Linked DNA regions of Homo sapiens. The protein of the gene in region 1 interacts with the protein of each later gene in a biochemical or structural test. Each region holds a gene or a part of one and is shown in the gene's direction. Other genes may lie near its edges.

Region 1 (6,495 bases):
TCAAGTTAAAACAATTTAACCAAAAACTATGAATGTTTATGATATAATGAAATGATTTTTAACTTTCTTATTGCTTTTTCACACACCTATAAAAGTAATTTTATTACTCTCAAGAGAAATCACTAAAGTCAGAATTACTAGAGGTAAAAATAACTAGTTTGTTACAGTATTACTCAGAGAAGTCAGGGAGAAAACTTGTACCATGATTCAAATATTTGCATGGTGTGGAGGAAAAATTGCTCCTTGGTACTCTGTTATTTATACATACTGTTTTTAGTTAAATAATTTTTTTTGTTGTTAAAGGGTATATTTGTAACAAGGGTACAACCTGAAGGACCAGCATCAAAATTACTGCAGCCAGGTGATAAAATTATTCAGGTAATTAAAATAAATCTTTTTTTTTTTCATTTTATAACACTCTAATGTTTTCACAGTTTAAAATGTTTTCACTTTAACTTTGAAAATTGTGGGTGGGAGGCTGAGGCAGGAGAATGGCGTGAACCCGGGAGGCGGCACTTGCAGCGAGCCGAGATCGCGCCACTGTACTCCAGCCTGGGCGACAGAGCGAGACTCTGTCTCAAAAAAAAAAAAAAAAAAAGTTTGATACATCATAGGATTTTGTTTAAGCTCAGGAATGTTAATTTTTACTAATTTGAGGGGGATTAGAGTACCACTTCTTGGATGTGGGCTATTGTCCTTTCAGAAATGGAGAAGAAAAATTTTAAATCTGCGAAACTCATTTTTTCCTGTCCCCTCCTTTTCTTTGTTCATTCAGCTACTCATTTTACCTAAACACTTACAGTCTTAGAAGGAAGACAAACCTAGGACACAAGTATAGCTCTCATTTTCTACCCCTACTGTCACCGTTCTTAGCTGAGAACTAAAGAACTTAAAAAATAATCCTCAAACCAAAAAAAAAGGGAGAGAGAGACATTAATGTCTAATAGCTGAAAGTACAGATTCTGAAAGCCAGACTGCCTGAGTTTAAATTCTGGTCCCAACACTTTCTAAAAATAAAACTAATTAAAAAAAATTTTTTTTGAATAATTTTAAGCTTAGAAAAAAGCCACAAAAATACTACAACAAACACCAGTATTACATCAATTGGTCACCAGTCGTTCATAATTTGCTACATTGTCTTTATCATTTATTCTCCTCTTTCTTCTCTTTTTCTCCCTCCCTCCCTCTACACACACACACACACACACACACACACACACACATACACACACACACACAGTCACACTCACTCATACAGTTATACACATTTATTTTTCTGAACCATTTGGGTTTCAATTTGTGACTGAGCAAGTTACTTTGCCTCTCCATGCCTGGGCTTTCTCTTCTCTAAAATAAGATAGTGAAAGAATCTTTTTTGAGCATTATGAGAATCAAAGGATCTAATTCATATTACACCCTTAGAATTGTGTGTTTGGTACACAGTAGAACCTCAGTAAATATTAAGCTTAATTGTAAGAAATATGGTGGTCTTGATGTGATGGCTCCAAGACAATGGGAAGAGTAGCCCTTGCCCCCTGCTACGCTACAGTTTGGTCACCTCAGATACACATTAGCATTATACGACACCATGTCTGACATTATTTCTTAAGTAAGTGATTTCTAACATTGGGCTGCTACATAAGAATTGGCTGAGAAGTTGGACAAAATACACATTTTTAGACCCCATCTTCAGAGACTTTATTCCTTGGTTTGGGTAGGGCCTGTGAATCTGTATGTTATTTTAAGTTGCCAAAGTGATTCTTATTTTCTTCCAAGTTTGTGAACTACTTGGCAGAAATGCAAATAAATAACTATAAAATGTTTTTCCTAAAAGCATTTTTCCTCTTCTAGGCTAATGGCTACAGTTTTATAAATATTGAACATGGACAAGCAGTGTCCTTGCTAAAAACTTTCCAGAATACAGTTGAACTCATCATTGTACGAGAAGTTTCCTCATAAGCACTGTGGACAAAAAAAGCGGGGAAGACAGCAAGATTTATTGGAAGATACTTACAGGGGAAATTAATATTTTGACTATTTTTATATATAAAGAAGAACTCAAAAAATTATGTTCAAATTTGTACATTAATGAAATAATGGAACTTGTGGTTAGAGGGAAAGAACCACTGTACAGAATATAAAGGAGACTGTTGAATTCATACCATATAAAACTTGTTAGGTTTTTAAACATAGCAATCAAGGCTACAAAAACAAACCTGTGTTGTTTTTGTATAGATTGTAGGTTTATTTTTGGATTTCATATACATGACTGAACTGTGTGCAAGGCAATAGTTAGCCTTGATTTTAGCCCAGAGACAGATGGCAGAGCTATCTCTCTCATAGCTTTTATGCCCTTATTTTTATTCAACTGGTATTAATGTTTTTCTCCTGAAACTACTTTTTTTGATGTGGGCAAGAGATTTGAAGTGTTGGCTTTTGCTATGTGCATATTGAATTGAAGAGTGAGTAGGTGAAGGTGGTGCTGGTGGGTTCACTTTCCAAGGCCAGACTAAAACAGTTATTTTCTATAAAAATCTGGAAGCAAAGAATGGGGATGGGGAGAGCTACGTGGTAGTATGTTTTTATTAGGAGAATAATGCAATAAAATATGTAATGTCTTTTTTATAAAGCAAAAAAGACAATAATTGCATTTATGAGCTCGGCAGGATCTGTTCTTGTCATAGCCATTGACTATACATTTGCTACTGGTGATTCAGTTTTTAATTTTTTAGTCACAGGAAATTTTTAACTCTACTGTAGATGCATGTCCATGCATTTTCTGTGTTATGGAAATCCACTGATTTTTTTTTTTTTTTCAAATGGTGGTACTTGCAATCTGTTTTATAATTAGTGCTCCATTTAAATCTAATTTATAATTTTTATTTTAAGCAGCAAATGAAACAAAAATGGCCAGTTTTAAGATTGTGTTGCCTGTAACACAAAATGTTACGAAGGTTTAGGAAAGCCTCTTTGATTTTTGTTTGGCCTTGCATTGCCTTGGTAAAGTAAAAGGAAACAGTACACTTGGAGCTAGGAAACCAAAGCAAGCTTTGTGAAACTGGCACAGTGATAGAGAATTGCTGTGGAGAGTTATAGAGCAAAGGGATGGGTCCTTGAGGCCTGCCAGTGTGTAAAGGTGTTCAAATAAAGGGCTGTTTCTACAGGTAACATTAAATGTGAACTCAACACTTCCAGAGTCTTTAAAGGGTTTCTATGTGTATCAGTGTAATAGTGTTTTACCACCAACTGCCTTTCTTTGTTCCTAGTTACTGTAACAAATATTTGATGATAGAGGTTTATTAATTTTGTTTATCCAGACCATTAATTTTATTTGTTTTTGTTCTATGTAATCAAATAAAATTTGAGTAACATGTAATGGTAAGGATTAATGCATGGTTATTTGGACCAGAAAAAAGTGCCATAGAAGACCAATAACTGTTTAGTTGAGGCTAGTCTGGAACCTTTCATTAGAGCAATATTTGGTTATTGCACTTCATTTTTATTTACTAAGAAATGCAATTTGGGAATTTTTAATCTGTTATGCTTTGTTTATCAACCTTGATTTTAATTAAGACTTTTATAAGACTAGCTTAAAACACCAACCAACATTATTTTTGCAAAAGTGAGTTGGACTCACTTTCCATTCTTGCTAGTCAGAGTAAGTAGGCAGCACTTTTAAAAATATGTGAACTCAAATATTGCACTTCTTTCAAGATGTTATCAATTGGTTATTGTACTGTATAGTTTTAATAATTTTGATTGAAACCCTTTAACAACTCTTTGTAAATTTTAACTCATTTTAGTTGATTTTCAGTACTATTTACATAGGAATTGATTTTTATGGATATAGTAGAAGAAATGTGCTGTATTTTGATAAAATTCACTTATTGTATGTGTGTTGTAATCTAAAAAAAAAAAGAATGACAAACAGCTTCTTTAAGACAAGTCTCGGTGTTCCCTTTATTCTTAGTTTGTTTTTAAATATTAATTTTGGCATTCTAAAATAGCTAACATTTCTTTTATTGATTTCAGATTTTCACAGGCACATTCTACTTTTAATCAGAAATATATTTAATAAGTATAATTGTGAAGTTTTCAACTACTTTACCTTGAACCACATATACCAATTATAATTTTGGAAAAGGAATTAAGCCTCACGGAACAATGGATCTTCAGCAAACCTTAACTTCATTGTCTGCACATTACATTGAAGTATTATAAATGCAACAGATGTTATATGCACTGGCATTTTATCCTACTCTAGTTAGTTAAAATTTTATAGTATTCTTGCAACACATAAAGTTGCGTAAGAAACTTTACCAAGAGGAGTATTATAGCCAAGTTTTCTTTGAAAGTATTGGAAAACTAAAATTAAATGACAAGGACTTTGAATTAGAATTTTGCTGTAATAAAGTTTCAAAATTTGAATAAAATAATTAAATTTTTTGAGGAAGTGGAGAAGACATTTTTAGTTTATATATTGTTGAGTAAATTGTAGTTAAGGCCTATACCCATAACTAACTTTAGTAAGTATTATATAGCAATTCATCAAAACCACAACTGTCTTTTAGTGATTTTGTCTTTAAGAGTAATTTCTTACTCTAACCAGTAAAAAAATAATACTGATCAGAGTAATTTATACGGCATACAATAGTTGATACAATCTAAAGATTTATGCTAATTAAGGAATTATCACTTCATCTGAATCAATGAAATTCTAAAATTCCCTACATATTTATTTTGTAAATATTCTTCTGACCTCTTTGGACTGGATATGAAGATATATATATATACACTTAATTCTTTTAAACACAAAACTTGCCATAAGCAGAACCAAACTTTTAAGTATTAATTTGCTGCACTTAAAAAATCCCATTAGCAGCTATGTAATATTTTTATCAACCAACATTTATTCATTCCAAATTTTTGTATATATCTAGATGAAGTAACACATAGAGGATAGATAACAAACTAATGATGTTTAAACTGGTTTATTTACAAAATTCGGGGTTAGAGAAATTCTCATGAAAAATATACAATTTTTTTTTAGCATTAAAACCCTGTATATCTAGGTGTGGAAGAAGTGTAGTTTATCTCAAATTATTATTATTTACTTCTAAAGGGAGGCATTAAGATGGGAAATGTTTCTCTGATGGAGATTGACGTGTGAAATCTATTTGGAAGGGTATTTTTTTCACTCAGTCTGTTGCATTCTTACAGCCTTCTGTTTTAATGTTCAGTGAATAGGTTTCTTATGAAATGGACATTGAAATAAAAATTATGATTCAAGAGCATTAATTGATGAACAAGTGAACAAGATGCCTCTTTAAAAAAAAAAAAGAAAAAGTAATCTAGACAGGCAGCCAACTCAGACCTTTGGGTATTCCTTTGTTTCTAAATAAGGACCTTCAGAAAAAGTTGACCATATTCTACCTAAAGCTGCTAATTCTTTACAGAATTCATAAGCCCAGGGGATAGTAAGTAGTCATTTAGTTTTGGAAAGTTCTTAAGAGAATGCTATCTTCTACAGTCTCATGAAGCAGTTTTTCAAGATTAGAATCTGTGGTCAGCTATAACGTACAGTCCTAATATCCAACCACCTGAGAAGCTCATCCTAAGCTGAGAAAGCCTAAAATGTTAGAGAATGTTTAGAGAAAACACCTGAAATTTTTTTTAAGAGAACAACCTAGGTTTTATTGTAGAGAACAATCAAAATACTCCTGAACCTTTCTATAGAATCTTTAGGAGAGAGGCTGACAAAAAGAATCCTTCTGTTACAACTTTCTTTTCTAATGTAACAACCAGGGACAATGGTGATCTGTCACGCATCTGCCCATCTAGCTTCTCAATCGGCCCACGGTTTTATTTCAGGATAAAATTTGAGAAACTAGTATCACTGGGGAAGGAAGAAACCTAAGCTGTAAAATTATGCTTTTCCCCTCAAGGGATTCAATAAAGCTTATTTTTCATGAAAACAAGCCTATAAATACTGACTTTCCTTAAACCTAATCAAATTGTGTTCCTCCAAGGTATAGCTTTAGAAGGATCTTCTTTCAGTTGCTCTTTCAAACTTTTCCTTGTTAGAAAAGAAAAACTAATACAAATTGTTAAAAAATTAAAGCATGAGCAGAGAGCATGGATTTTAGATGATTTTAAGTTTCCTCATCTTCATGAAAAGAAGAACCTAATACTCTGAGAAGTAATGCCTGTCCAGAATGCACACTAAACATCTCATATTTGGATCATCCTTCACTGCAGCATCCCTCAAAGGAACATTCATTCTCCCAAGAACAAGAGGAATTGTTTGCAGATAAATTATTCAAGGTAGCAAAATGGAGCATGCTTCAATCTCCTCATCCTGTCCACATACCTACAAAGGACAGAAAAGATTATTAATACTATGATAGGCAAGAGTGTTATGTAATAATAATATTACCAGTTTTGTAAAAAAAAAAAGGGAGTACACTGGATCCATAATTTTTTTTTTTTTTTTTT
Region 2 (7,023 bases), on another chromosome or scaffold:
CCTGTAATCCCAGCACTTTGGGAGGCCGAGACAGGTGAATCACTTGGGGTCAGGACTCTGAGACCAGCCTGGCCAACGTGGTGAAACCCCGTCTCTACTCAAAATACAAAAATTAGCTGGGCGTGGTGGCATGTGCCTGTAATCCCAGCTACCTGGGAGGCTGAGCAGGAGAATCACTTGAATCGAGGAGGCAGAAGTTGCAGTGAGCCGAGATCACACCACTGCACTCCAGCCTGGGCGACAGAGCGAGACTCTATCTCAAAAAAAAAAGAAAAGAAAAGAAAAGAAAGTAAGAAAGAAAGTACCTGAGCTATCTTCTAGTCTAAAGCCCTCTGACTGCAGCCGAGGAAGGTGTGAGACCCAGGAGAGGAAGCACTTCCCAAATTCCACACTGTACATTGGCCACTGAGCCAAGACGGCATTGCCTTTCCTCTGTGCCAGCTGCCAGCATCCTCGGGGCGCAGGAGGGCTTTTATAAGGAGGCTGCCGAGCATTTGTTTTCCATATCAGGATAAGAAAAGGAAATGAAGTCATATTAACGCAAGAGGCACTACGATTAGGCCCAAGGAAGAAGTTACGGCTCTTCCACAGGTGATGGGAACCTGCCCCTGGGATTATTTCAGCATCGTTTATGCCTTTGTCTGTCTAAAGAATATAATGATGTTTCAAGTTCAGTCTAGAGCTTCTGCTGTTCCTCGGGTGCTACTAGGCATTTTAAGGAAAAGGGTTCTGTGGTCAAATATGTTAAGGATACGTGGGATTAAAGTTTTTGTTTAATAGGCCAGGTGAGGTGGCTCATGCCTGTAATCCCAGCATTTTGGGAGGCTGAGGCAGGCTGATTACTTGAGGCCAGGAGTTCGAGACCAGCCTGTCCAACATAGCGAAACCTCATCCCTACTAAAAGTACCAAAAAAATGAGCTGGGTGTGGTGGCATGCACCTGTAATCCCAGCTACTTGGGAGGCTGAGGCAGGAGAATCACTTGAACCCAGGAGGCAGAGGTTGCAGTGAGCCAAGATCACGCCACTGCATTCCAGCCTGGGTGACAGAATGAGACTCTCTCTAAATAAATACATAAATACAAATAAAGTTTTTGTTTATTTCTGCAGGACTTTTCAAAGCCTTTGATAGGATCAACTACATAATGACTCTCCAAGAGCAGAATCTAGAACGCAGCTTTTCCCAAACATTATCAACGCCCCCTTTTTAAGGGCACAGCATGGGAGATTAGCGTTCTGTTGAACACACTTTGACAGCGCTAACTTAGTGACATGTATTAAGCTCTGCTGTATGCCTTTGTTTGCTCTATAGGTCAGGCAACAGCCCATCAGGTCTTTATAGTTCATTCTCCTAGTGGCTGAGCGTCTGTGGCCATTTGAGGGCTCCAGATTGAGGATGTGAACAGAGAAGGGTGGAGTTAATTTCAGAAGGCTTCGGGGAAGTAGTGGTGCTCAGTAAGTCAAGCCTTGAAGATGGAGTAGGAAAAAGCTTGGCGGTGGGGGCCGCGGGGGCTCTGTTATCACCCTGCCCTGCCCCCTGCCAATATCCTTGCCCTCTCTGCGGTCAGGGCTGAAGACGATCGTGGGGGCCCTGATCCAGTCGGTGAAAAAGCTGTCGGATGTGATGATCCTCACTGTCTTCTGCCTGAGCGTCTTTGCGCTGGTAGGACTGCAGCTCTTCATGGGAAACCTGAGGCAGAAGTGTGTGCGCTGGCCCCCGCCGTTCAACGACACCAACACCACGTGGTACAGCAATGACACGTGGTACGGCAATGACACATGGTATGGCAATGAGATGTGGTACGGCAATGACTCATGGTATGCCAACGACACGTGGAACAGCCATGCAAGCTGGGCCACCAACGATACCTTTGATTGGGACGCCTACATCAGTGATGAAGGTAAGAATGGGGAGGGTGACGGGCAAGGGGGATCCTGTCCCAGTCCCTAGGGTAGCCTCTGACTCCACATTTTCTTTTTTTTTTTTTTTGAGATGGAGTCTCACTCTTGTCACCCAGGCTGGAGTGCAAAGGTGCCATCTCAGCTCACTACAACCTCCGCCTCCCGGCTTCAAGCGATTCTCCTGCCTCAGCCTCCCGAGTAGCTAGGATTACAGGCATGTGCCACCAGGCCCAATTAATTTTTGTATTTTTAGTAAAGATAGGGTTACATCATGTTGGCCAGGCTGGTCTCGAACTCCTGACCTCATGTGATCTTCCCACCTCGGCCTCCTAAAGTGCTGGGATTACAGGCGTGAGCCACCGCTCCCCGCCCTGTCTCCACTTCTTATGAGACAAATAGTATGGCGAGGACCTGAGCTTAAAGCTAGCACTTGGCAGCCTGTGTCACCTCTGACTAGTCACTTGATCTCCCCAGCCCTCCGAATCCTCACCTATAAAATCAAGATAACAATACCTTCCTCAAAGGGTTACTGCAGCAACAAATGGCAAACTGTTTTAAAAACCCTAAAGTGCCAGGCACGGTGGCTCACGCCTGTAATCCCAGCACTTTGGGAGGGCGAGGCAGGCAGATCACCTGAGGTCAGGAGTTCCAGACCAGCCTGACCAACGTGGTGAAACCCCGTCTCTACCAAAAATACAAAAATTAGCCGGGCGTGGTGACGCATGCCTGTAATCCCAGCTACTCCAGAGGCTGAGGCAGGAGAATCGCTTGAACCTGGCAGACAGAGGTTGCAGTGAACCGAGATCATGCCATTACACTCTAGCCTGGGCAACAAGAGTGAAACTCAGTCTAAAAAAAAAAAAATCCTAAAGCTCTCACTATGCAAAGCAAGAGTCTATAGTTCCTACTCCCTAACCTGTGCACCCCCTGTCCTCCTTCATCACACCACATTTTCACATGCTCACATCCTGGCAGGGTCACCATCACCCACCCACACACCCACATCCTATTCACATATGCATCTTCACAGGCACACATGCCAGAAACACACACATTCTCACACAGCCACTGTTAGTCTACATAGCGCCTTCTTGCAAATTAGGAAAAGGTAACCCTTCTCACCCTGGCACCTGGATTCCAGCCCCCACTCACCCTTCACTCAGGGGCCCTACATAGGTACACAATAACCCCATGCACACACGTACACGTTCCGTCTCTGTGCCACTGCTGCGTCATGACTTTTCGTCCACACTGGGCACTGGGCTGACAGGGCTCAAGCTGAGCTCCCTGCCGAGTCCCTACCCAGAGACCTTGGAACTTGGAGCTGTCCTTAAAGGACGGGGAAGAGGCAGCCAGGGAACATCCGTTTGGTTTATGTGGTACGCGCAGACCTGTCCACAGGTGTGCAATGGGCGCAGGTGCTCACACTGTGTCCATGTGGGTGACTTGCCTCCTTTGTGGCCTCTGACTCCCAAAGGGAACTTCTACTTCCTGGAGGGCTCCAACGATGCCCTGCTCTGTGGGAACAGCAGTGATGCTGGGTGAGTGATGCTAAGGGATGCAGAAAAGGCACCCCAGGGGTCTTGGAAGGTGGGAGCTGATTAGAGATGAGGACCTGGGGGGCATGGGAGTGCAGGGAAACCTGTGGGCATGGATGGAATACTTTTCTGTTTGGGGGACACAGGCAGAACTGACGGAATTTTTCCCTTGGGGTCCCTATCTGCCCCCAGCTGGAGTGCTCCTCCCACCCTAAACCCAGCCCCCTGTCCTATTCCTAGGCACTGCCCTGAGGGTTATGAGTGCATCAAGACCGGGCGGAACCCCAACTATGGCTACACCAGCTATGACACCTTCAGCTGGGCCTTCTTGGCTCTCTTCCGCCTCATGACACAGGACTATTGGGAGAACCTCTTCCAGCTGGTACAGCTGCCCCCACCCTGCCCCCCAACCCTACAGCCACTCCCCCTCCATCCCTGCAGCCTCTTCAGGGCCTGATGGGGCCTACCACAGGATGGCCAACCCCCGAACTGGGCCATCTCCTCATGGACTCCCGCAGTGCCCTTATAGGAGCTTGTGCTCTCTGAAACTAGACACCTGCCCCGAGCCAAGCCACAGCTTTAATTCTTTCCACACCTTTGCTTTCAGAGCCAAGGTCTGGACCTAGCATAGGCACAAGCCCAGGACCCCCTAGGCCTCATGATAGCCAGTAGGGCAGCTTAGAAATCCAATGCTGCCTGCCGGGCGCGGTGGCTCACGCCTGAAATCCCAGCACTTTGGGAGGCAGAGGTGGGCGGATCACGAGGTCAGGAGTTCGAGACCAGCCTGGCCAACATAGTGAAACCCCATCTCTACTAAAAATACAAAAATTAGCCGGGTATGGTGGCACGGGCCTATATTCCCAGCTACTCAGGAGGCTGAGGAGGGAGAATTGCTTGAACCCGGGAGGCGGAGGTGGCAGTGAGCCGAGACCACGCCATTGCACTCCAGCCTGGGCGACAGAGCGAGACTCCGTCTGAAAAAAAAGAAAGACAGAAATTCGATGTTGCCCATACTTTATTTGCCTTCTACTGTTTGCAGGGAAGGCAGGCTGAGCCTGGAGTGACAGTGCCTTCTGATGCCATGTGATGTTTCTAACATTGATGGTGTTGATAACAATAACAAAAATAATAACAGCTACTGGCTGGGTGCAGTGGCTCATGCCTATAATCCTAGCACTATGGGAGGCCGAGGCAGGCAGATCACTTGAGGTCAGAAGTTTGAGACCAGCCTGGCCAGCATGGCGAAACCCATCTCTACAAAAAATACAAAAATTAGCCAGGTTTGGTGGCAAACACCTGTAATCCCAGCTACTCAGGAGACTGAGGAAGGAGAATCACTTCAACCTGGGAGGTGGAGGTTGCAGTGAGCCGAGATCACACCGCTGCACTCCAGCCTGGGCAACAGAGTGAGACTACGTCTAAAAATAAATAAATAAATTGATTAAATAATAATAATAGCTACTATTTGTTGAGTTCTTACTAGGTGCCAGGCACTGTGGCAAAGCTAGAATTCAAGCTGACCCCAAACCCATGTTCACCAATTTTCTATCCTGGCTCTCTGATAACAGGATGCCTGGCTTCGGTCCTCCTCTGAGCCAGGAGACCAGAAACGTTTGAGTCCCAAGTAGATATTTTGAAGTTCCCCAGAACATGGCTCAGCATGCCAATGACGGCCATCAGTCCCCCAGGCTCTGTGAGGGAGGGGCTCTGCTTACCCATGCGGGCAATGGATGTATGGAAAGGGGCACTGGGTCAAAGGAGGTGGACGTCATGGGACCCCTCCACTCCCTCTCCCTCCACTCCCAGACCCTTCGAGCAGCTGGCAAGACCTACATGATCTTCTTCGTGGTCATCATCTTCCTGGGCTCTTTCTACCTCATCAATCTGATCCTGGCCGTGGTGGCCATGGCATATGCCGAGCAGAATGAGGCCACCCTGGCCGAGGATAAGGAGAAAGAGGAGGAGTTTCAGCAGATGCTTGAGAAGTTCAAAAAGCACCAGGAGGAGCTGGAGAAGGTCTGGACTCAGGGAAAGGAGATAGAGGACCCAGGGTTCTACCTGCCCTCAGCCGGGGCTGCCACTGGCTTCTCCCTGGGGGGCCGAGGGTGAGGGAGGGTACAGGGGTAGGGGTTTTGAGGCAGAAGGAGCAGAAGGCCCTGGGCTGGGAGCTTTGCTGGTGGCAGGGGGATGGAGGGATCCAAGCAGTAGAAAAAGCATTTCTCTGCTCTGTGCCTCAGTTTCCCTGTCTATAACAAGGAATCTGGAGTAGCTAAACCTGAAGTATTCTTCCAGCTCAAATATTTCTGATTTTGTGATGCTTTCTGGGTAGTGGATAGGTCCATACTGAGGGAAGGGCAGGTCCTGATGAGGCCACAGGGAGCGGCTGACCAGTTTCTCATTCTGTCAACAAGTGGAGGGTTAGTCAGGGCATCAGAGTCAAGGGTCTTCAGGGCAGAGGGTCTTTAGTCACTTTGGTCCCTACCCTGTCACCCCCACCACCATGGAGGTTGGTCCCTCCCCCACCTGCACTAAGTTTGACACAGGCCAGGAAGAGGGGCTGCCACCCTGAAGGACTCTGGAAGAAGCTCTGAGGGTCAATTAGTCCATCCCTCTGGCTCAGAGCTGGACTTCCTGCCAGTCACTCTTGCTGGTCTACAGGCCAAGGCCGCCCAAGCTCTGGAAGGTGGGGAGGCAGATGGGGACCCAGCCCATGGCAAAGACTGCAATGGCAGCCTGGACACATCGCAAGGGGAGAAGGGAGCCCCGAGGCAGAGCAGCAGCGGAGACAGCGGCATCTCCGACGCCATGGAAGGTGAGTGCCTTGTGCCCCCGTGCCCACTTAGGTAGGGGTGGAGCCTGGCTGGACTGGATTCAGGAGGATAGGGATGCCATGGAAGGTGAGTGCCCTGTGCCCCCTCTACCCATTCAGGCCCCTGAGGTCAGGGTGGGGCCTGGCTGGACCAGCTTCAGGACAGTAACTTAATATTGGCATAGAAGAAATGGCTATATTTATACTATATTTATCACAGCCATTTCTGGCTGTCACAAATATAGTCCTGTCTTAACCTGGCCCAGTTCTAGCTGCAAGGCCAGGCTGCTATGGGAACTGGGGGCTTCCGGGAGGGCCTTGGGGACTGCCCAATGGGAAGCACAGGCTAATAATACTAACCAGAAGGCCCAATGTTCCGGAAACTGGACATCCTGCTCCTCAAGTGTTCTCTGGGTAAAAGTTAAAGGCCAAAAGTCAAATTCTGCCCAAACAGAGTGACAGACTCCCCAATCCCTGTGCCACATGCTGAATCTCAGAAGAATAAGGATGTCATGATGAGAGAGGGTGAATAGACACGACACGACAGATGGATGGACAGATGGATGGACGGACGGATGGATGGATGGATGGATGGATGAGAGGGAGGGAAGTAGGGAGGCAGGAGGGAAGGAGGAAGCACAGGAAAAAGGGACAATAGAGAAAAGGAATTCTGACACACAGAGATGTGGTTCCCTCCCCAGGTCGGCTTGCCTTGTGCCAGGGAGTTGGGGGCCCTGCAGGACTTTGCAGATCTCTAGAGGTCACCATGTCACCTG
Region 3 (7,316 bases), on another chromosome or scaffold:
GGGGTGGGCTGGGGGCCCAGCAAGCAGTGCCTGGCCAGGGCAGTGGGGGTGGGCTGGGGGACCCCAGCAAGCAGTGCCTGGCCAGGGCAGTGGGGGTGGGCTGGGTGGAGGGAGTGTACTTGGACCCAGCTCCTGCAGGCATTAGGGGCCAACTGAGGAGCTAGAACCACCAGATCCTATATGGAGGGGGTCACTGGTCTGCCTGTGCCCTTGTCCTGGCCTGTTGGAGTGAATGAGTCTGGGGGCTTGCCAAGAGAAGCCCCAGTTTGGGGCCAGGGAGGCAGAGAGTGAGCAGCCTCCCCAGGTGTTCTTGTGTGCCCCCAGGCCCGGACATATATCCAGTCCCTGCCCCCCATGCCCCAGAAGGACCTGAGCAGCATCTTCCGTGGAGCCAACCCCCTGGGTGAGGACTGCCCTGGGCTAGACTGGGCTCCATATCTGGCCCTGGATGTACAGCTGACCCCCCTCCCCACCACTGGCTTCCCTGCAGCCATAGACCTCCTTGGAAGGATGCTGGTGCTGGACAGTGACCAGAGGGTCAGTGCAGCTGAGGCACTGGCCCACGCCTACTTCAGCCAGTACCACGACCCCGAGGATGAGCCAGAGGCCGAGCCATATGATGAGAGCGTTGAGGCCAAGGAGCGCACGCTGGAGGAGTGGAAGGGTGAGCATGGCAGTGGCTGGGGGTGGGTCCAGGGGCCTGCGGGCTCCATTTCCCCAGAGGCAGGAAATGCCCCAGTTCCTCTCCAGACTGGTCAGGTGTGGAAGGGCGTTCAGGTGTCCAGCACAGGCTGGGAGCGGGGCGGAGGAGTGACACAGGGCAGGTTCTGGCTCCCAGACTGTGCTGAGGCTGCTGTCACAGGGTGGTGGGCCTGGGCTGGGTGGCAGGTGCCAGACAAGCAGGTGAGGGGCCGGGCTGTGGGAGGCACAAGCTCACCCTTTCCCTTCACCTCCTAGAGCTCACTTACCAGGAAGTCCTCAGCTTCAAGCCCCCAGAGCCACCGAAGCCACCTGGCAGCCTGGAGATTGAGCAGTGAGGTGCTGCCCAGCAGCCCCTGAGAGCCTGTGGAGGGGCTTGGGCCTGCACCCTTCCACAGCTGGCCTGGTTTCCTCGAGAGGCACCTCCCACACTCCTATGGTCACAGACTTCTGGCCTAGGACCCCTCGCCTTCAGGAGAATCTACACGCATGTATGCATGCACAAACATGTGTGTACATGTGCTTGCCATGTGTAGGAGTCTGGGCACAAGTGTCCCTGGGCCTACCTTGGTCCTCCTGTCCTCTTCTGGCTACTGCACTCTCCACTGGGACCTGACTGTGGGGTCCTAGATGCCAAAGGGGTTCCCCTGCGGAGTTCCCCTGTCTGTCCCAGGCCGACCCAAGGGAGTGTCAGCCTTGGGCTCTCTTCTGTCCCAGGGCTTTCTGGAGGACGCGCTGGGGCCGGGACCCCGGGAGACTCAAAGGGAGAGGTCTCAGTGGTTAGAGCTGCTCAGCCTGGAGGTAGGGGGCTGTCTTGGTCACTGCTGAGACCCACAGGTCTAAGAGGAGAGGCAGAGCCAGTGTGCCACCAGGCTGGGCAGGGACAACCACCAGGTGTCAAATGAGAAAAGCTGCCTGGAGTCTTGTGTTCACCCGTGGGTGTGTGTGGGCACGTGTGGATGAGCGTGCACTCCCCGTGTTCATATGTCAGGGCACATGTGATGTGGTGCGTGTGAATCTGTGGGCGCCCAAGGCCAGCAGCCATATCTGGCAAGAAGCTGGAGCCGGGGTGGGTGTGCTGTTGCCTTCCCTCTCCTCGGTTCCTGATGCCTTGAGGGGTGTTTCAGACTGGCGGCTCCAGTGGGCCAAAGGGCAACCACATGAGCATGGGCAGGGGCTTTCTCCTTGGATGTGGGACCCACAGCAGCTTCCTGAGGCTGGGGGTGGGTGGGTGGGTGGTTTGGCCTTGAGGACGCTAGGGCAGGCAGCACACCTGGATGTGGACTTGGACTCGGACACTTCTGCCCTGCACCCTGGCCCGCTCTCTACCTCTGCCCACCGTTGTGGCCCTGCAGCCGGAGATCTGAGGTGCTCTGGTCTGTGGGTCAGTCCTCTTTCCTTGTCCCAGGATGGAGCTGATCCAGTAACCTCGGAGACGGGACCCTGCCCAGAGCTGAGTTGGGGGTGTGGCTCTGCCCTGGAAAGGGGGTGACCTCTTGCCTCGAGGGGCCCAGGGAAGCCTGGGTGTCAAGTGCCTGCACCAGGGGTGCACAATAAAGGGGGTTCTCTCTCACTTGGCTTGTATCCAAAGGCTACTCCAGGCCCGGGTGCCCCCACCATCCCTGCTGCTGGGCGTGGGGGGAGTGTCTGGGTCATCCTGCATCACTCACCTCCAGCTGGCCAGATCCCTCAGGCCCCCAGTCAGACCAGCGGCCATCTTCTGGCACCCTCCCTGCTCCCTGGAGGGTCTGAGAGCCCAGGGGGACCAGGGGAAGACATGGCTGATGGGCAGACTTTGAGGGCACAGGGTGTGACAGCCACCCAGATGGTGACCCCAGCTGCCCTGTGGGGATGTACTGGGCAGGCTTGGCTTTGGGCCAAGATCCAGACACCACCCCCGCCTACCCCTCAGTGTTCAGGGAAGCTGGCTGGGGAGAAGTTGGGTGTCTCAAGGAGCAAGGGTCTGCCCATCCCTGGGTGGGGGCTGGGCAGGGTAGGGAAAATAGCTTTCCTTTCCCTCCTGGTGAAGGAAAAAGAGGCCACTTTAACCCAGGGAATGTGCACGCTGGTCCCGTTCCCACTACGCGCTGCAGCTTATGTGTGGGGGAGGGTCCAGGCCATTTGGGGTCAGGCAGTGTCTCTAAGGACCAGGGACAGTCTGTGCCCTTGCTTGGGTCTTGGGTAGGGGTGGAAACCGTCTGGGAGTTGGGGGCCTCCTGGGGCCTGGTCAGTGTAGTGGTCAATCCCGGGGGAAGTCCAGTGTTGGCGGTTGGGGGTGGGAGGAGAATGGTGACACAGCCCCACCTCAGAAGCCTGGTCCGTGCAGGGCCTGCTGGACCCCTGAGCCCCACCACGGGGAGTAAGGGGGACAGCGTGGAAGCTGGGCTTCCTGGAAGAGGTGGATGGAGTGCCACAGGCAGCCCAGGGCACAAAGGGTATGGGCCACAGGCAGCTGTGGTTTGGGTGGCCCTGGGCTGCCCCGCTCACTGGTCACGAGCTGGTGAATGCCGTGGAGCACGGCCCAAGCCCAGGTGTAAAGCTACTACCACCCTTGAGCGGCTGAGCTGCTGATTCATGGCAGGAGGGCGGGGCAGAAGGCCCTAGGGATCCTGTTACCCACCAGCCCAGTGGGCTCCTGGGGTGCCCCAACATCCCTTCTGAGATCCAGGTTCCTGGGCTGGTGAAGGGGTGTCAGGGTGGGGCTTTGCCCTCAGGAGCATCTGGTCCAGGATGGGGCCAGACCTATGGGAGGACAATGCCCACACAGAGGGGTCAGGCGGAGGGCCCCAGCAGGTCCCCATCCCTGCTGGAGAGAGTGCAGCCACTCTCAGCCTGGGTTTTGCAGGACAGGACAGGCAGGGGTGGGATGGGCAGAGACACCAGTACTTGCAATGCTTGGAGCAGGCACCCCACAGATGGGGGGAGCAGGGGGAGGAGCTGGGGGTCCAAAAGGGCCCACGGGGACCTATGGGACTGAGAGGCCCGGGGTCAGTGGCCACAGGAGTGGGGTTGGGGATGCAGCCTGAGGAGTTTGGGGGACAGACCCCTCCGTGTAGAAAGAGGGATACAGGCAGGACAGGTGCAGATGGACCCCTTGTTGGGGGACGGATGGATCAGGCTCAGTGGTAGGGCATCCTTGGGGGTGGCCTGCGAAGTTGACCCCGGGAACACAGGGCTCAGCCCGACTTGCGGCTGCCATAGAAGTCAGCGCTCAGGCTGTCAAGGATGGGCCCTGCGCCCTGGAGCCGTGGGGAGTTAGGACTGGAGCGGGCGGGGGGGGGGGGGGGGGGCTCCTGCTGAGACCCCCCCAGGGCGGGGAAGTTCAGCCAAAGGGGAGAGGCTGGCAGAGGTATCTCCGCGCCGCGTCCGGCCCTTTATGGGGACGAAGCTGCGGGGCGGCGCTCCCCTCCCCCTGCGCTTCCCCCCAGGCTCCGGCCCTCCCCAGGCTCCGGCCCTCCCCCGGCGGCGGCCGCCTCGGGTTTCCGGAGGGGCCGGAGGGCGGGCGAGGGCGTCACGTGCGCGCCGCCCGCGGGCCGGTTGGTCCCCGGGCGGGGGAGGGGCCGTGCGCAGCCTGGGTCGGGGTCGGGCCGGGGTCGGCACCTGGGACATCCCTGAGGGAAGGGCCGGGAGCGGGAGCGCCCCAGCGGCCGGCGGGCGGGCGGGCGAGCGGACGAGCGGCGCGGAGCCGGCCCGAGGCGCGCGCCGAGGGAGCCCCGTCCCCGGTCGTGGGGGCACCGCCCGCAGGCTCTGCGGGGTGGGCAGCTCCCGGGCCTGCCATGAGCTCTCCGCCGCCCGCCCGCAGTGGCTTTTACCGCCAGGAGGTGACCAAGACGGCCTGGGAGGTGCGCGCCGTGTACCGGGACCTGCAGCCCGTGGGCTCGGGCGCCTACGGCGCGGTGTGGTGAGCGCGGGCCGGGCGGGGCGGCCGGCGGGGCGGGCGGGGCCTGCGCGGGGTGCCCGGCCTTCCCGCTAAGCGGTCCGCCCCGCAGCTCGGCCGTGGACGGCCGCACCGGCGCTAAGGTGGCCATCAAGAAGCTGTATCGGCCTTTCCAGTCCGAGCTGTTCGCCAAGCGCGCCTACCGCGAGCTGCGCCTGCTCAAGCACATGCGCCACGAGAACGTGAGTCGCGCGGCCCCGCTCCGGGAAGGCGCCGCGGCCTCGGCTTGGTTCAGCTGGGCTGGGTTCCCCCACCCGGCAACCCCTCCTCCAGGCAGCCTGCTGTGGGGCCGGGCGGGGGTCGGGCCGTGGGTCCCCAGGGGAGAAGGAGAGCAAGGCCTGTCTCTCCTTGGGAGACGACTCCCCCAAGGGCCGTTCCCCATCCTCCGCCAGCCCCGGGAAGGACTCAGCCCCTTGACTCGGCGCCTCAGCCAGGCCCTGGTCAGGGAACACGACTTGGCCAGGCCCAGGGGATCCTCCAGGTCTCACGCCAAGCCTTGCCCCCAGCCAGGAAGCCCGCGGTGAGAGCATGCTCCCGGCGGGAGGATTTTCCTGGAAGGGGCACCTTCCCTCTTCCCCATCCCCTTTCCAGCCCCTCTGTGGAGCCCACTCTGCTGCTGTCCATCTCCCGAGTCTTCCGACCCGGTGGTGGAGGGGGAGGAGGGGGGCGCCAGAACGCAGGGAGTGTGTTGAACCCTCAGGAGCCCCTGGGGGTGAAGGGTTTAGGGAGCTGCTGTTTGAGGAGCACTGGGCGTGGTGGCCGCCTCACAGACACCCTCCTGTGCGTTGTGGGGGCCCATCCTTTCCAGTCCTTCCAGTGAGATGCCACGTACAGCTGCCCTGGGCCTCTCCCATGGCGGTGGCTGGCTGCTAAGAACCCGATCTCTCTGCCAGGGGTGCTCTGGTTTCTGGATACAGTCCCACTTGTCCACTGCCCCCCACGTCACTCCTGCCCTCCCCCTGGTCTGGGCCCAGCCTGAGGGCTGGTGGTCTGGGCACCCGGACCCTACCTACAGGGTGAGATGCTCTGGACCCTCCTGGGTCATCTGAGCCACCGGTGCCTTGGGAGAACGAGTCCCTGCGTCCACCAGCAAAGTGCCCCGTCCACCAGCAAAGTGCCCCGTCCCCCGGTTCCTGGCCACCGCTACTCCCTCAGCCCCTTGGATGGGTCTTTTTCTCTGAGGCTTCCCATGCCCACCCTGACCCCCAGCTCACTACCCTGGGCCCTGTGAAATCCATTTGCAGTGGACACCAGCCCTGCCCGCACCTCGACACCCCGTCACACCCAGCCCTGCCCCCACTTCGCCGGCACCGCACCCCCCCACCACCCGCCCATCACACCAAGGCCTTGCCCCAGGACTGCAGCCTTCCCCACGGCCCCCTGCTCCCACCCACCCACTCACCCACCCGTGCCTTGCCCCATCCAGCCAAGCGCTCTGGGGCTTTTTTTCTTTTTTTTTCTTTTGAGACCGAGTTTCGCTCTTGTTGCCCAGGCTGGAGTGCAATGGCACGATCTCAGCTCACTGCAACCTTCGCGTCCTGGGTTCAGGCGATTCTCCTGCTTCAGCCTCCTCAGTAGCTGGGATTACAGGCGCGCGCCACCACGCCTGGCTAATTTTTTGTATTTTTAGTTGAGATGAGGTTTCACTATGTTGGGCAGACTGGTCTCGAACCCCTGACCTCAAGTGATCTGCTCGCCTCGGCTTCCCAAAGTGCTGGGGTTACAGGCGTGAGCCACCGCGCCGGGCTCCACCGGGGCTTTTCTTTAGCCACCGCCCCGCTGTGCTGGGATCTCCGCTGTGCCTGTGGGCCCACCCCCTGGGCTCCTGGCCTGCAGCTGAGGCTCTTTCCCTGGAACCCCATCTTCCTGGGAGACTGAAGCTCTGTGAGGCCACGTGCCTTGCTCAGCGGGGGAGGAGGCTCTGCCACAGGCCTCAGTCCTGCCAGGCCGCCTCCCTCTCCAGGCCAGCCCCCATACCACAGAGGCCAGGCCAAGTCCTGTGGCCCCTAGCCCACAGGACCCTGCTCTCCGTCTTCTGCTAAAGCACTCTCCCGGGCACCCTCCAGCTCTCATGTCCACAGTCCCCGCTGCCCCCTGGACACCCCCTCTGTTCCCTCTCCTCCTCCCTCCACATTCTTGCCCATGGCTCTGGCCCACGTGGCTCCGGCGGAGCTGTCCTTCCAGCTTGTGTCCATTCTTACCTCACTCTGGCCGGTTCCTACACCACGGCCAGGAGGACGCATTTAGCCTCACGTCCCCATTTAAATCGTCCCCGTCTCTTGGGATCAAAGCCAAACTTCCACCTGGTGTGTGCTGCCCTGCCGGCTCCCTCTGGCCTCTCCTCAGCCCCTCCCTGGCCTGGGCCTCCGCCACCTGGCCTCCCTCCCTGTATTCTTCAAACTATCCAAGTGTGCTCCCTCCTGCCTCGGCCACTCTGTGTGTGCCCTCTGCCAGGTGTCCCGCAGCCCACATGTCTACCTGCCCCTCCACCCTTGGCTGTGCAAAACTCCAGGCCTCCCTGGGACCGTCACCCCAAAATGCTGAGGCGGCAGTTGTCACATGACCTGTCTACTGTCTATCTCCCCAACCAGGGGTGCTGAGGGGACCAGGTCTGGTGGGTCACGGTGCTGTCCGCCTGGGCCTCACCAGCAGAGGCCTGGCCTCTTTCCATAGCGCTGTC
Region 4 (7,500 bases), on another chromosome or scaffold:
TTCCGCAGGAGAACCTGAAGTCAGCCAGGACACAGCAGACAGCCAGAGATAAGGACTAACCACCCACGGCCCGCTGGCACCTAGCTAGAACCTGCCTAGACCTACTCCCAGAAGGGAACTGCGTTTATAGAACACCTTCTGTGTGCCTGGCACATGGCAGCCACTCTACCTCTGTCCTCTCCCAAAGTTGTTATCCCTATTGTACAGATGAGGAAATTGAGGCTTGGCAAGGTTATTTAACTGGCCTAAGACACACACATGAAGTGGCTGAGCCAGGATTTCAACACAAAATTGTCTGGTTCCAGAACTTCCCACCCCAATAGGGAGGTGGGCAGACTAAAATCAGGAGGCAAGGGAAAGTGCAATTGTTGGGCCAGGTGGAGGAACAGATGCTGCTTACAAGAGAGGTTTTGGGGCTCTGCCCTCTAGAAAGGCAATCTGACATGAACGCAGGCCAGGCTGGTGGTAATGGTAGTGGTAGTGGCGGAGGAGGCTTCAATTTCTGTCTTGAGGTTGTGGGATGAGCAAGAGGCCAGGAAACTTGGTCCTTCACGGAGGCCTTGGTTTAGTCCTGGTGGGAAGGCAAAGCTGTCTGGATCCATTCCTGTCTGGATGCCCTGTTGAGGCGGGGACTAGGGAGGACGGCATAGCTTTTCCTTTAGAACAGTGGTTTCCAAAGTGGGTGTGCACCTAGGGGTGTGCAAGATGATCCTTTTGGGTATGGGAAGACAAAATTGGAATTTCTATTTATAGTTAAAAAATTAATCCTGGCCTGGTGCAGTGACTCACACCTGTAATCTCAGCACGTTAGGAGGCTGAGGCAAGTGGATCACTTGAGCCCAGGAGTTTAAGGCCAGCCTGGGCAACATGGCAAGACTCTATCTCTACAAAAAATTAAAAAAAAAATTCTCCAGGTGTGGTGGCATGCAGCTGTGGTCCCAGCTACTCTGGAGGCTGAGGCAGGAGGATGGCTTGAGCCTGGGAGGTCCAGCCTGCAGTGAGCTATGATCATGCTACTGCATTCCAGCCTGGGCAACAGAGTAAGACCCTGTCTCAAAATATGTTTATTTATTTATAAATAAAATGAAAATAAAAATTCATCCCTATGTGTGTGATTTCTAATATGCATACTAATTAGTTGAATAACACAAATATAGTTTATAGGCAAATATTTATATAATTTTATATAGTCCATTGAAGGCTCTAATTTTTTTTTTTTTAAATACGGAGTCTCACTCTGTCGCCCAGGCTGGAGTGCAGTGGCGCAATCATGGCTCACTGCAACCTCTGCCTCCCGGCTTCAAGCGATTCTCCTGCCTCAGCCTCCCAAGTAGCTGGGATTACAGGCGCCCGGAACCACTCCCAGCTAATTTTTGTATTTTTAGTAGAGACAGGGTTTCATCATATTGGCCAGGCTGGTCTTGAACTCCCGACCTCACATGATCTGCCCACCTCGGCCTTCCAAAGTGTTGGGATTACAGGTGTGAGCCATGGCACCTCGCCCAAGTTTTTTTTTTTTTTTTTTTTTTTTTTTTTAAGTATAGTCCATAAATAAGGTTTCCAGAACTAGGCACTGGCCAGTCGCAGGTGTGGAGGCGAAGCACCTCAGAGGCTGGGTGTAGATAAACTGGGAATAGCTGTTGGTGGCCCCTGCTGGTCATTATAGGAAGTGCACCATCACTCAGTGCAAAGCCTTACCTGCTGGAAATTTGTAACACTTTTGAGTTTTATTTTTCTCTGTGCCTTGACTCCCAAAACTCTGGGCTGAACACCACCATAGGAATACCTTGATTTTGGGGGAAGGAGATATACTACCTGCACCTTTATGACCTCTGAGGCTGAGGCAGGGAGGAAGGCAGAGCTAATTACAAACCTCAGAGAAGGAGGACTCATTCCCCTCTTGAGGTAGGGGGCAGCCCTTAACTACTAGGGGATGCATTGCCGACCTTCAAACCTGCTTCCCTTCCCAGCTACTCCATTGCCAACCATTAGCAGCTCTATTCCTTTGGGGAACAGCTTAGGACACACTGCACCTTTATTATGGCATTCAGCTGTGCTACCAAGAAGCGCTTTTTGTATCTATGTAACACACTCCTTTCCGACTTCAACCCCAGACTGTGAACTCTAGGAGGTTAGGGCCCTTATCTCAGTATCACAGTAAGTGGTACCTTGCCTGGCACAGAAGAGGAGCATCCTATTCTGCATCAATAAATGTTTCTTCTCATTCTGTAACTGCACAAGGCTGTTGTGAGAATGAAACAATTTGTCAATTGTAAGGTCCTGAACAGATGTGAGAGGCTGGCATTCTGCAAGGCCTTTATTAGAGAGATACTTGTTGACCGACGAATGCAGTGGGGCAGCCGCTAAGAATAATGAGTTGGGCTCCACCTCCCCAGGTGGGCCAGAATCTGAGATCCCAGACTGTCCTGAGGATCCTAAATGGAATGGAAGATTTGATGTGGGTCGCTATGGAGGTAATAATTGCTTGATTAAGAAGTAATTAATATCTTGTAGAGATTCAAGATCCTTCCTCTTCCAAAATACAAATAGCTGAGTGATTTCCAGCCCAGAGGTGGACAGGTGACAGTGGAGGGTAGCCTTTATAATGGAAAGGGGAACTCTTCCTGAATTCAATTATAAGGATTTTCTAGGCCGGGTGCAGTGGCTCATGCCTGCAATCCCAGCACTTTGGGAGGCTGAGGTGGGCAGATCACCTGAGGTCAGGAGTTCGAGACCAGCCTGACCAACATGGAGAAACCCTGTCTCTACTAAAAATACAAAATTAGCCAGGCATGGTGGCGCATACCTGTAATCCCAGCTACTCGGGAAGCTGAGGCAGGAGAATTGCTTGAACCCGGGAGGCAGAGGTTGCGACGAGCCGAGATCATGCCATTGCACCCCAGCCTGGGCAACAAGAGCGAAACTCCGTCTCAAAAAATAAAAATAAAAAAGAAGAAGAAGAAGAAGGATTTTCTAGCTTGCAGATAGAGGAAAGAGCTGCAAGCAATGCGCTCCAAGAACCCTCTTTGTTTAGAGACCAAAGCCTGCAATTCCTGTCAAAGCTATCTGGGTTCGATGGCTTTCTTCTCTCAGTAAAAGCCTGGGTCACCTAAACAATGTGGTTTTCAGCAGTTCGGCCGCCTCTGTGGCTTTTTCCTATATCCAAACTTATACCCTTGGAACTCAGGGGAGAGCTGAGTCTTGGAACCCAGGGACCAGTCCCCTGCTTTCGGGATAGATTCCCATTTCTGAGATTTCCAAGCAAGTTTCCAGAATGTAATCCATTTCTTTTCTTTTTGTTTCTTTTGAGACAGGGTCTCACTCTGTTGCCCAGGCTGGAGTGCGGTGTTGCAATCTCGGCTCACTGCAGCCTCAGCTTCCCAAGTAGCTGGGACTACAGGCGCGCGCTACCACGCCCAGCTAATTTTGTTTATTTTATTTTTTGTAGCGATGGGGTTTCACTATGTTGCTTGGGCTAGTCTCGAACTCCTAGGCTCAACCGATGCTCCCGCCTCCGACTCCCAAAGTGTTGGGATTATGGGAGTGAGCCACCGCGCCCGGCCAAAGATGCAGTCCATTTATGATCTTAGGAATCCAGTTAGCAAGGAAAAGGGATGACTCTCACATTTTGTTCAGGGCAACTGGACGGGGTGGCTGAACGCCGAGGTCGGAGAAGTAGCGTAGCTGGCCCCAAATGCTAGTCGCACTGCACAGAGCCTCCCGTATTTGGAGGCCCAGCATCTTTTACTAGCAGATGTGGGGTGGAGCCGGAGGCTGGGCGAAGGCGGGCCAGTGGGTTTAACCCTTTATTTACTTTTTGGGCTGGGACTCTGAGGAAGGCTAGCCAGTTACTTCTTTATTCCATAGGCAGGAAAATGGACCAGGCCTCCCTCACCTAGACCTAAAAGAGGCTCTCGAATCCTTTCAGGAAGACATTTCCTCTTTTTTGCAAAATTTCTGGAAAGTCTGGAATCCGGATATCCACCCTCTGAGTCCTTAAAAAGCTGCCCCTGATCCCGAGGCCTTCTGGGGCTGGTATCCTGCTTCCTGGGAGTCTCTCTGAAGTCCTCCTATTCTTTTTCTCAATATGGAAGCAGGATAACGAGGAAAAGTGAGGCACGCCTGGAACTAGAACGCCGGTCTAAGCCAAGATGGGTGGGCGGAGTAATCAAGCCGGTCTCATTAGGCACTTTTACCATCGCCCCTTTAAGGGATCCTTGGGAGCCGAGGGGCACCAGCGGGTACTGGTACCAGTCCTGCCTCCCTAACCCTTCCCAGTGGGACTCCAGCAGGGCGTCGTGGTCTGTGCGGTGTCTCCCAAACCACTACCTGGCTGCCCCCGTACCAGCTGCTGGGAAAGACTACTTCCTCCGAGTTGTGCCGGCCTCCGCGTTCTCCTCACCTCCCCTCTCCTCCGGACCTCCGCCCCCTCGCGGAGAGGCCTTGCCGCTTTAAGAGCCGGGCTAGCGATTGACAAGCAATAAACGCTGAGCGCCCGGCTGCGCTGGAGCCGCCCGGAGCTAGGGGCTTCCCGGGGCGCAGGTAGGCGTCCCCCGGCCCCCGGGCCAGCTCCTATCCCAAGACCTCCGCCTTCTTTTCGTCCTGACACGGCACTTAGGACCCTATTCACTGGGTTTAAACTCCACAGGCCCCTTTCACCCAGGCCCGTTCCCTCCCTGTCCACCCGCCCCCGCCCCTGGGCCCTCTTTCTGGGGTGCTGGTTGGGAGAACCAAGCCCCGCTGCCCATTGACACTGGTCCCCGCCCCTGCGGTAGGGGCTCCAAAGTGGCTTCAGGCACCAAGGTGGTGAGCTGTGAGGGGCCCCGGTATCTGCGCGGCCTCCCCGGGGGCTGTGCGGGTTGGGGGTACTTAGAAGCCCGGCATTACGTAAGAACCGTGCTGTTAGCGCTTCCGGGGGTTGGGGAGCGAGACAGAGGTTGCGCTGGGTCCCGGTGGCCCCCTGGTCCCCCTAGGCAGCTAACACCACAATCTTCCCTGGGAGGGGGTCCGCAGAAGGGCGCGCGCTGCTTCTCCCGCTTCCCAAGCTGTAGCGGGGCGGGTCGGGAGCCAGGGTTAGGGTCTGGAGACTTGGGAGGGGACCGGTGCCAGAAGCGAAGAGCTAGGGTTAGAAAGTTAGGTCAATTAAGGGGGGGGCGGTGCGGATAAAGACGGGGTGGGGGTTGGCCGGGGCAGTCATTTAGTGACCTCATCCCTGGTCTCCGGCGGGCGCGCACGTAGAGAGCCTTCTTTGATGGCTCACAACACGCCCCCCTCCCCCAGGTCCTAGCGCCCAGGGTGTTAGGGCTGGGTCCGTTGGGGCAGGGGTGATCTGATGGTCCAAGCATGCACGTCCGCCTGGCCTTTCGACCCCATCCTCTGGCCCTCAGTTCTGTCCAGACCTCCCCGCGACCTCTCGCTCTCCAAAGCGCCTTTGTCAGACCTTTCTTCTCCGCACCTCTTTGTATGTGTATGGATGGAGGGATGGGTGGGAGGTTGGAAGAAACCTCTCCCTTTCACTGCTGGTCCGCTCGCCTGCGGACACTATGGGTGATGTGGATATCTCGGAGGCAGAGCTGAGAGGGCATCTGGGCCCAGGCTTTTGGAAGCCGAGGTGCAGGTTCCCAGATGTCTGGGTGCAGGACCTTGGCACGGAGCCAGGCTAGCTTGCCTGGCACTGCCGTTCTCCTGTGGACACAGCCAGGCCCCGCCCTCTCAGAGGCTTGGACGGGCGTGGGGGAGCAAAGCCAGCCGATGCTCTGGGAACCGATTCCCCGGGAGAAAACCCAGGCAGGCTGGGCAAGACTTCCGAGCGCAGGGATTTCATACAGGATCCTCCCTGCCTTTTCCCGCCCTCCACGCTCTAGGGAAGGAGGACTTCTGGAGTCCCTTCTCTGACCCTGTGAGGGAGAGCAGCGCCAGCCAGGAGAAGGCTCCAGGTCATCAAGGCCTGGGAGGGGGAGGGAAGGGATCCCTCCTCCCTGCTCTCTAGGAGTAGAGATTGGCACCAGGGGCACGGGCCAGCACAGTGGATCCTGGGCATTTCTTCCAGCCTGGGTGTAGCCTGAATAGGGGTGCCCTTCCTCTCCCTGAAAGCACCTTTATTCCATGTCCTCAGCGGCAGAGCTGGGAGGAAAGGGAACCATCCCCCTCACTTTTGTAATTTCTGTCACCTGAGCTCAGGTGACCAGCTCAGGCCTGAGAAGGGAATGGGAGCAGAGAGGGTTTTATTGAAATCAGGTACTAGTCCTCTGGGAAGAATCCTCTTTTGGGGGGAGGTGGAGTTGCCGTGGTTCCCCCACCCCCAGGACTCAGCAGGCATTCAGTCCTAAAGTGGGCACTGCCAGATGCTTCCCCCCACTCCCCACCCCTGCTGTGAGCCACTGCCTCCTGTTGTCATGGCAACTGGGAATTAGGGTTTTATCCAGCAGCACATGCCCAGGAAGGCAAAGGGAAGAAGGGTGGGGGGTAACCCCCTGCCCTCTCCTGGGAGAACGAGGGAGCCACTCCTAGCCTGGGGAGGCCCTGGAATGGAAACTGGGGCTGTAGACTCCATGCTTGGTTCTGCCCAGAGCACTTGGTCTCCTTGTGCCAGCTCTGAGCTAAGAAAGGGAGAGAGGAGAGAGAGCCAGCCAGAGGGGCCGTGGAGAGGTAGATATCACTCTGTCAGCCCCCCAGATAAATGTGGAACATCGGCGCTTTGGTAGGCCTAGGTTCCAGAAGCAAATAAAATCAATGTGGTTCTGACTCTCAGGGAACCTGCAGTCTAGGAGTACTCATGTTTTCTACTTTGGCTCAAATTCTGGACTCTTTTATTATTTTTTAAATGACTTTTTTTTTTTAAGACAGGTTCTTGCTCTGTTGCCCAGGCTGGAGTGCAGTGGCGCAATCATGGCTTACCGTAGCCTCGACCTCCTGGGCTCAAGAGATCCCCCTGCCTCAGCCCCACAAGTAGCTGGGATCATAGGCATGCACCACCACACCTGGATAATTTTTAATTTTTTTGTAGAGATGGGGGTCTCGCCATGTTGCCCAGGTGGGTCTCAAACTCCTGGGCTCAGGTGATTCTCCTGCCTCAGCCTCCTAAAGTGCTGGGATTATAGGCGTGAGCCACCTTGCTCAGCCAAATTATAGTCTTACCCTCTAAAAATTCTACTTGTTTCCTCTTCAAAAAACAAACAAACAAAAAATACAACAGGAAGAAACACTTTATTTATATACTTATTTTTGAGTCATAAAACCTGGATTTTCATTTTAGCTCTCCTTATTAGCTTTGTGAACTTGGGCAAATCAGTTAACCTCCCTTATCCTCCCTGGTCTCCTCCTCCTCAGAGAAATAGGCGAGTAATACCTGCTCTTCCTGCTTCCCAGGACCGTTGGAATCATTGTTGTTCTCCAACCCCCACTTTCTGGGCAGCACCTTCTCCCCTACCTTTCTGGCTCGTCCTGAAGGGGAGGCTCTTCCTATTCCCTTCCCCATTGCTTTGCCCTTGTATCTGCTCA

What was found.
Region 2: the proteins of ERBIN (region 1) and SCN4A interact in a test that uses a peptide from one of them, tested with the Homo sapiens proteins (2 studies listed by BioGRID and IntAct).
Region 3: the proteins of ERBIN (region 1) and MAPK12 interact in a test that uses a peptide from one of them, tested with the Homo sapiens proteins (2 studies listed by BioGRID and IntAct).
Region 4: the proteins of ERBIN (region 1) and MPP2 interact in a test that uses a peptide from one of them, tested with the Homo sapiens proteins (one study listed by BioGRID).

The regions. Positions count from the first base shown.
Region 1 is NC_000005.10:66,076,572-66,083,066, forward strand, and holds the end of ERBIN (erbin), read left to right. Parts: intron 1-303; coding exon 304-378; intron 379-1,851; coding exon 1,852-1,959; 3' UTR 1,960-5,975; downstream 5,976-6,495. UniProt on the Homo sapiens protein: Acts as an adapter for the receptor ERBB2, in epithelia. By binding the unphosphorylated 'Tyr-1248' of receptor ERBB2, it may contribute to stabilize this unphosphorylated state.
Region 2 is NC_000017.11:63,962,899-63,969,921, reverse strand, and holds part of SCN4A (sodium channel protein type 4 subunit alpha), read left to right. Parts: intron 1-1,566; coding exon 1,567-1,899; intron 1,900-3,348; exon of another isoform or gene 3,349-3,377; coding exon 3,378-3,441; intron 3,442-3,678; coding exon 3,679-3,820; intron 3,821-5,244; coding exon 5,245-5,454; intron 5,455-5,713; exon of another isoform or gene 5,714-5,838; intron 5,839-6,096; coding exon 6,097-6,250; intron 6,251-6,607; exon of another isoform or gene 6,608-6,657; intron 6,658-7,023. UniProt on the Homo sapiens protein: Pore-forming subunit of Nav1.4, a voltage-gated sodium (Nav) channel that directly mediates the depolarizing phase of action potentials in excitable membranes.
Region 3 is NC_000022.11:50,258,669-50,265,984, reverse strand, and holds the start of MAPK12 (mitogen-activated protein kinase 12), read left to right. Parts: upstream 1-4,301; 5' UTR 4,302-4,475; coding exon 4,476-4,600; intron 4,601-4,688; coding exon 4,689-4,818; intron 4,819-7,316. Other genes in the region: MAPK11 (mitogen-activated protein kinase 11), read left to right, coding at 325-403, 491-664, 958-1,037. UniProt on the Homo sapiens protein: Serine/threonine kinase which acts as an essential component of the MAP kinase signal transduction pathway.
Region 4 is NC_000017.11:43,904,516-43,912,015, reverse strand, and holds the start of MPP2 (MAGUK p55 subfamily member 2), read left to right. Parts: upstream 1-4,479; 5' UTR 4,480-4,542; exon of another isoform or gene 4,543-4,803; intron 4,804-5,264; exon of another isoform or gene 5,265-5,332; coding exon of another isoform or gene 5,333-5,461; intron 5,462-5,864; exon of another isoform or gene 5,865-5,936; intron 5,937-6,035; exon of another isoform or gene 6,036-6,648; intron 6,649-7,500. UniProt on the Homo sapiens protein: Postsynaptic MAGUK scaffold protein that links CADM1 cell adhesion molecules to core components of the postsynaptic density. In CA1 pyramidal neurons, required for synaptic KCNN2-containing channel function and long-term potentiation expression.